Homo sapiens: one gene and its partner. The protein of the gene in region 1 purifies or fractionates together with the protein of each later gene. This does not show direct contact. Each region holds a gene or a part of one and is shown in the gene's direction. Other genes may lie near its edges.

Region 1 (3,500 bases):
GGTAGTCTGAGGCAGGCGGATCACCTGAGTTCAGGAGTTCGAGACCAGCCTGGCCAACATGGTGAAACCCCATCTCTACTAAAAACATAAAAATTAGCTGGGCATGGTGGCGCACACCTATAATCGCAGCTACTCAGGAGGTGGAGGTTGCAGTGAACTGAGGTTTTGCCACTGCACTCCAGCCTGGGCGACCGTAAGAACCTGTCTCAAATAAATACATAAAATAAAATATAAATTTAAATGTTTCTAGGAGAAACTTCCTTGATTACTCCTGTGGTTTGAATGTCCTCTCGTGATGTCAACATCTTCCATTAGGCCCCTACCTCCCAACACTGTTGCACTGGGGATTTAATTTCCAAAACATCCTTTTTAGGGGCACATTCAAGCCATAAGAGGTATATACCTAAGAAATAATTTACTGCCTGATATAGGTAGCTGATATACAAATTGTGTAGCACCATCCCTCAAAGGTAAGTAAGAATGTTGAGGTTTGAGGGGTCAACACCTTTCTCAAAAAAAGACTGCTAAAAACTATGGCTCTGGGCCAGGCACAGTGGCTCACGCTTGTAATCCCAGCATTTTGGGAGGCCGAGGCAGGTGGATAATGACGTCAGGAGATCGAGACCATCCTGGCTAACACGGTGAAACCCCATCTCTATTAAAAATACAGAAAATTAGCTGGGCGTGGTGGCGGGCGCCTGTAGTCCCAGCTACTCGGGAGGCTGAGGCAGGAGAATGGCGTGAACCCGGGAGGCGGAGCTTGCAGTGAGCCGAGATCACGCCACTGCACTCCAGCCTGGGCGACAGAGCAAGACTCCGTCTCAAAACAAAACAAAACAAAACAAAACACTATGGCTCTGAAGAATGACCATGCTTTCTCAGGCTTTAAGTAGCAACAAATCTTTTTTTTTTTTTTTTTTTGAGTTCAAGTGCAGTGGTGTGATCTTGGCTCACTGCAACCTCTGCCTCCCGGGTTGAAGTGATTTCTCCTACCTCACCCTCCTGAGCAGCTGGGATTACCGGCTAATTTTTGTATTTTTAGTAGAGACGGGGTTTTGCCATGTTGGCCAGACTGGTCTTGAACTCCTGACTTCAAGTGATCCACCCGCCTTGGACTCCCAAAGTGCGGTGATCACAGGTCTGAGCCACCACGCCCAGCCTGCAACACATCTTCATCTTAACAGTAGTCAAGGACTTGTTCTTACAACTCTAGGGTTTAAGTGATCTTCCTGCCTTGGCCTCCCAAAGTGCTGGGATTACAGGCATGAGCCACTGTGCCCAGCCCAGGAGCTTAGTTTTTAACGCCCCTGAAAATGGGTGGCTCATGCCTGTAATCCTAGTGCTTTGGGAGGCTGAGGTGGGAGGATCACTTGAATCCTAGAGTTCAAGAGCAGCCTAGGCAGCAGAGAGACTCTTTTTTTTTTTTTTTTTTTTTGGAATCAGAGTCTCTGTTGCCCAGGCTGGAGTGCAGTGGCGTGATCTTGGCTCACTGCAGTCTCTGTGTCCTGGGCTCCGGCGATTCTCCTTCCTCAGCCTTCCAAGTAGCTGGGATTACGGGCCCACGCCACCATGCCCAGCTAATTTTTGTATTTTCAGTAGAGACGGTTCACCATGTTGGCCAGGCTGGTCTGGAACTCCTGACTTCAAGTAATCCACCTGCCTCAGCCTCCCAAAGTGCTGGGATTAAACGCATGAGCCATCACACTTGGCCGAGACCCCCACCTCTACAAAAAAGTTTAAAATTAGCTAGACGTGCTGATGAGCACCTGTGGGCCTAGCTACTTGGGAGACTGAGGCAGGAGGATCGCTTGAGCCCAGGAGTTCAAGGCTGCAGTCAGCTATATATGATCATGCCACTGCAACCCAGTCTAGGTGACAGAATGAGACCCTGTGTCAAAAATAATTTAAAAAAATAGGCGGGGCACGGTGGTTCACGCGTGTAATTCCAGCACTTTGGGAGGCCAAGGCGGGCGGATGACAAGGTCGGGAGTTCAAGACCATCCTGGCCAACATAGTGAAACCCCATCGCTACTAAAAATACAATTAGCTGGGTATGGTGGCACGCACCTGTAGTCCCAGCTACTCGTGAGGCTGAGGTGGGAGAATCGCTTGAACCCGGGAGGCGGAGGTTGCAATGAGCTAGACCACACCATTGCACTCCAGCCTGGGTGACAGAGTAAGACTCCATCTCAAAAAAAAAAAACAGCCAGACGCTGTGCCTCACGCCTCTAATCCCAGCACTTTGGGAGGCTGAAGCTGGCGGATCATCTGAGGTCTGGAGTTCGAGACCAGCCTGACCAGCACGGAGAAACCCCGTCTCTACTAAAAATACAAAACTAGCTGGGCATGGTGGCGCATGCCTGTAATTCCAGCTACTTAGGAGGCTGAGGCAGGAAAATCGCTTGAACCCAGGAGGCAGAGGTTGCGGTGAGCCAAGATCACGCCATTGCACTCCAGCCTGGGCAACAAGAGCGAAACTCTGTCTCAAAAAAAAAAAAGAAATTAAATTCTTGGAGTTCTTTAGTACCTGCTTATAGGTCAGTGACACCTGGCCAGCTTTGTTGTTGTTTTTAATAAAATTTTTTTTCTTTCTGTAGACATGGTCTCACTTTATTGCCCAGGCTGTTCTCAAGGAGGCTCAAGTGATCCTCCTTCCTTGGCCTCCCAAAATGCTAGGATTATAGATGTGAGCCACCGTGACCATCCTGTTGATTTTGTTTCTAAGATTTTTCTCTTTTTTTTTTTGCTTTGAGATGGAGTCTTGTTCTGTCGCCCAGGCTGGAGTGCAGTGGTGTGATCTTGGCTCACTGCAACCTCCGTCGCCTGAGTTAAAGTGATTCTCCTGCTGCAGCCTCCCTAGTAGCTGGGATTACTGGCTCATGCCACCATCCCCAGCTAATTTTATATTTTTAGTAGAGACAGGGTTTCAGCATCTTGGCCAGGCTGGTCTTGAACTCCTGACCTTGTAATCCACTCGTCTCAGCCTCCCAAAGTGCTGGGATTAGAGCGGTGAGCGACCATGCCCAGCCTCTGAGATTTTTCTAAGATAAAGCAATTTTACCTGATAATGTGAACGTTTATTTTCAGTGTTACTCTAACTTCATTCCTGTTAACAGTATATACACTGTATTTTCTGAGATTTAATTAAATTTTGTATGTATTTTATGACTTGCTTTTATTCCTTTAGCATTACTTTTAATCCCTTTAGTAATATTTCATGTGATTCTATAATAGTCTGATTTATCACAAAATGGTAATAAATCAGGTATGTCCTATGATTTGCTTTGCCAGTCCACTGTTTGAGAGCATTTGAGTGTTTACAGATTTTAGTTGTTTCAAGCAAGCCACCAGAAGCTTTGAGCAAAGTTTTTTTGGAGTTATGTCTTGGTATTATAGTCTCAAAGATGAAACTATATAAAATAAACTTGAGTTTTGTAGCTCTTGGTACCTGTTGCCAAATTTCACTTAAGATATATGGAATCTAGGCGGTCACTGTGGCT
Region 2 (3,500 bases), on another chromosome or scaffold:
GAAGGAAGGGAGGGATGGAGGGAGGCAGAAAGGAAGGAAAGGAGGGAGGGGAAAACAGCAGGACAAGTGTTTTTAGTATGAGGAGCTTTGTTTAATGTATTTAGTTTGGTCATGGACTAGGACAGTTGTCTTCACTGTTCATATATTTGTCTCCAGGATGAAATAATTGAAGATAATCTCCTTTATCAAGTTAATAGTCTGTACAGTCTGATATTGCAGTTATTTATGTTCATCTCCCCTTATTGAGACTGCAAGCTTCTATTAAGCAGGAACAATTTCTCCATTATCTTTGTAATTATTAGCAAATCCATGTACCCAATAGTCATTTGTTCAATTGAATTAGAGTTGTGATATTCTTCCAAAAACACAAATAATTTCAGGTATAAAATTTTTTTCTATGCTTTTGCCATAGTGTTTAGAAAACCCTAAACTGTGTGTGTGTGTTTTTTTAATTTTTTCACTTAATGCAACACAACAATAATCATTAATACAGAAGACCCCAAAATATATGAGGATTTCTTCCCACCAGCAAGCAAGCAATCAGTTCTGCAGCAGATACCAGCTGGGTGTCTACTAATTTAATTTCAACTCTGTCTACCTGGAGACAGTGTCACATCCCACAGGTTGAGGGCTCAGTCCCCAAGACTGTCCCCCTCTTCAGACACTAGTCGTAAATCTGGGCCTCCTGACCTTCTGACCAACCAGCTTCAAATTGGGGTTCCTATGACCCCCTCCTTGGGTTTGATTGGTTTGCTGGTGTGGCTCACAGAACTCAGGGAAACACATTTACTGGTTTATTATAAGGATATTACAAAGGATATAGATGAAGAGATGCATGGGGCAAGGCATACGGGAAGGGGTGCGGAACTTCTGTGCTCTCCCTGGGTGCACCACCCTCCATCTGTTCAGCTACTTGGACGCTCTCTGAATCCTGTTGTGGGGACCTTTTTTTATTTTTTGAGACAAGGTCTGGTTCTGTTGCCCAGGTTGGAGTACAGTGGCTCAATCACAGCTCACTGCAGCCTGTACTTCTCTGGCTCAATCAATCCTCCCAGTTCAGCCTCCTAAGTAGCTGGCACTACAGGTGTGCAATACCACACTCACCTAATTTTTTTTTTTTTTTTTTGGTAGAGACAGGGTTTCCCTGTGTTGCCCAGGCTGGTCTTGAACTCCTGGGATCAAGCGATCCTCCCACCTCAGTCCCCTAGAGTGTTGGGATTACAGGCTTAAGCCACTGTGCCTGGTCCTTTGGGCCTTTTAAAGAGACTTTATTGGTTGTCCACGATTGAAACATGGACAACCATATCAAAATGTTATTGGACAAAAAGGGTCTGATCAAAACCCAGCAAAGCCTGTCTGTTTAGATTCTTATTGGCCTCTCTCTGCGGCATTCCTTCCTCCAGGGTATGAGTCAGGACCTTCTCTGGAATGAGGGTCTTATGACCCACAATCAGATTAGAGTTCTACTCTGGGAAGGTGAGAGGAGAGCAGGAGAAGGTCAGAAAGAGACTGTTTCCTGAAGCCTATTTCTGAGTGCCCCAGCATTATAACAAACACTGTAACAATGGCTATGGGGCTTATGAGCCAAAAACTGGATGAAAACCTGCACACACACACACACACACACACACACACACACACACACACAGTAATATCACAACTAGTAAATAAGTCGACCATAGTAATATGTAGAGCCAAATAGCCTACCATTTATTGATTTACAGTATTATACTTGTCAGATGGTATGCTATGCATGTTAATATGTTCCTTCGATGTCTCATGACAAACCTTTAGATAGTACCTCATATTATAATAAAGAAATGAAGGTTTAAAGAAATCAATTTTAATTTCATATGGCTCATTAATGGCAAAACTGGAACTCAAATCTAGGTCCATTTAATTCCAGTGTCTAATTTTCTCAATGTACAAATATATATATATATTTTTTTGAGACGGAGTCTTGCTCTGTTGCCCAAGCTGGAGTGCAGTGGTGTGATCTCGGCTCACTACAACCTCTGCCTCGGTTCAAGTGATTCTCCTGCCTCAGCCTCCTGAGTAGCTGGGCTTACAGGCGTGCGCCACAACGCCTGGCCAATTTTTGTATTTTTATTAGAGACGGGGTTTCACCATGTTGGCCAGGCTGGTCTCAAATTCCTGATCTCAGGTGATCTTCCCACCTCGACCTCCCAAAGTGCCGGGATTACAGGAGTGAGCTACCACACCTGGCCTCAATGTACAAATATTAATGCATGGTCTTACTCTGGTTTATCATAGATGTGAATAAAGCAGTTATTTCCTGAATAATTCAATAAACATTTTTCAAATACAAAAAACATTTACTGTGTTTGTGTGACCTGCGGGATCTGACCTGTATATGTAAATACACATACACACATAATGACGTTTTGGTCAATGTCAGACCATGTATAACATAAACAACCATGTAAATTTTTTTTTTTTTTTTTGAGACGGAGTCTTGCTATGTCATCCAGGCTGGAGTGCAGTGGCGCGATCTCAGCTCACTGCAAGCTCCGCCTCCCGGGTTCATGCCATTCTCCTGCCTCAGCCTCCCCAGCAGCTGGGACTACAGGCGTACACTGCCACGCCCAGCGAATTTTTTTGTATTTTTAACAGAGACGGGGTTTCACCGTGTTAGCCAGGATGGTCTTGATCTCCTGACCTCGTGATCCGCCCGCCTTGGCCTCCCAAAGTGCTGGGATTACAGGCGTGAGCCACTGCACCCGGCCAAATTTTTTTTTTTGAATCAGAGTCTCGCTCTGTCACCCAAGCTATAGTACAGTGGCACCATCTCAGCTCACTGTAACCTCTGCCTCCCGGGTTCAAGTGATTCTCCTGCCTGAGCCTCCCGAGTAGCTGGGATTACAGGCAAGAGCCACCATGCTTGGCTAATTTTTTATTTTATTTTATTTTATTTTATTTTTTTGAGACAGAGTCTCGCTCTGTCGCCCAGGCTGGAGTGCAGTGGCATGATCCCAGCTCACTGCAAGCTCCACCTCCCGAGTTCACACCATTCTCTTGCCTCAGCCTCCTGAGTAGCTGGGACTACAGGTGTCCACCACCACACCTGGCAAAAATTTTTTTTGTAATTTTTAGTAGAGACGGGGTTTCACCGTGTTAGCCAGGATGGTCTCGATCTCCTGACCTCTAGTGATCTGTCCTCCTCAGCTTCCCAAAGTGCTGGGATTACCATATAAACATTTTGATCAATGATAGACTACATATGTCAAATAAACATTTATCATGTGTGTATATATGCACATATATATAAACATTTATGTGTATATAAGTGTGTACACATACACAAATATTTATATGATGTTTCAGTCATCATACGACCAAAACATACGATGTTTCGATGAACAGCATATACCATAGTGATTTCATAAGATTATAACACAGCATATACACAAATATGATATATGGCACTTGATATTGGCATAGCAGATCAAGTAGGGATTGATATTCAGTAATTGTGCTGG

The links. The genes of interacting proteins can lie anywhere in the genome.
Region 2: the proteins of FNBP4 (region 1) and LURAP1 purify together in Homo sapiens (affinity purification with mass spectrometry; one large-scale study listed by BioGRID and IntAct). This does not show direct contact.

Annotation. Positions count from the first base shown.
Region 1 is NC_000011.10:47,760,842-47,764,341, reverse strand, and holds part of FNBP4 (formin-binding protein 4), read left to right. Parts: intron 1-3,500.
Region 2 is NC_000001.11:46,209,834-46,213,333, forward strand, and holds part of LURAP1 (leucine rich adaptor protein 1), read left to right. Parts: intron 1-3,500. UniProt on the Homo sapiens protein: Acts as an activator of the canonical NF-kappa-B pathway and drive the production of pro-inflammatory cytokines. Promotes the antigen (Ag)-presenting and priming function of dendritic cells via the canonical NF-kappa-B pathway.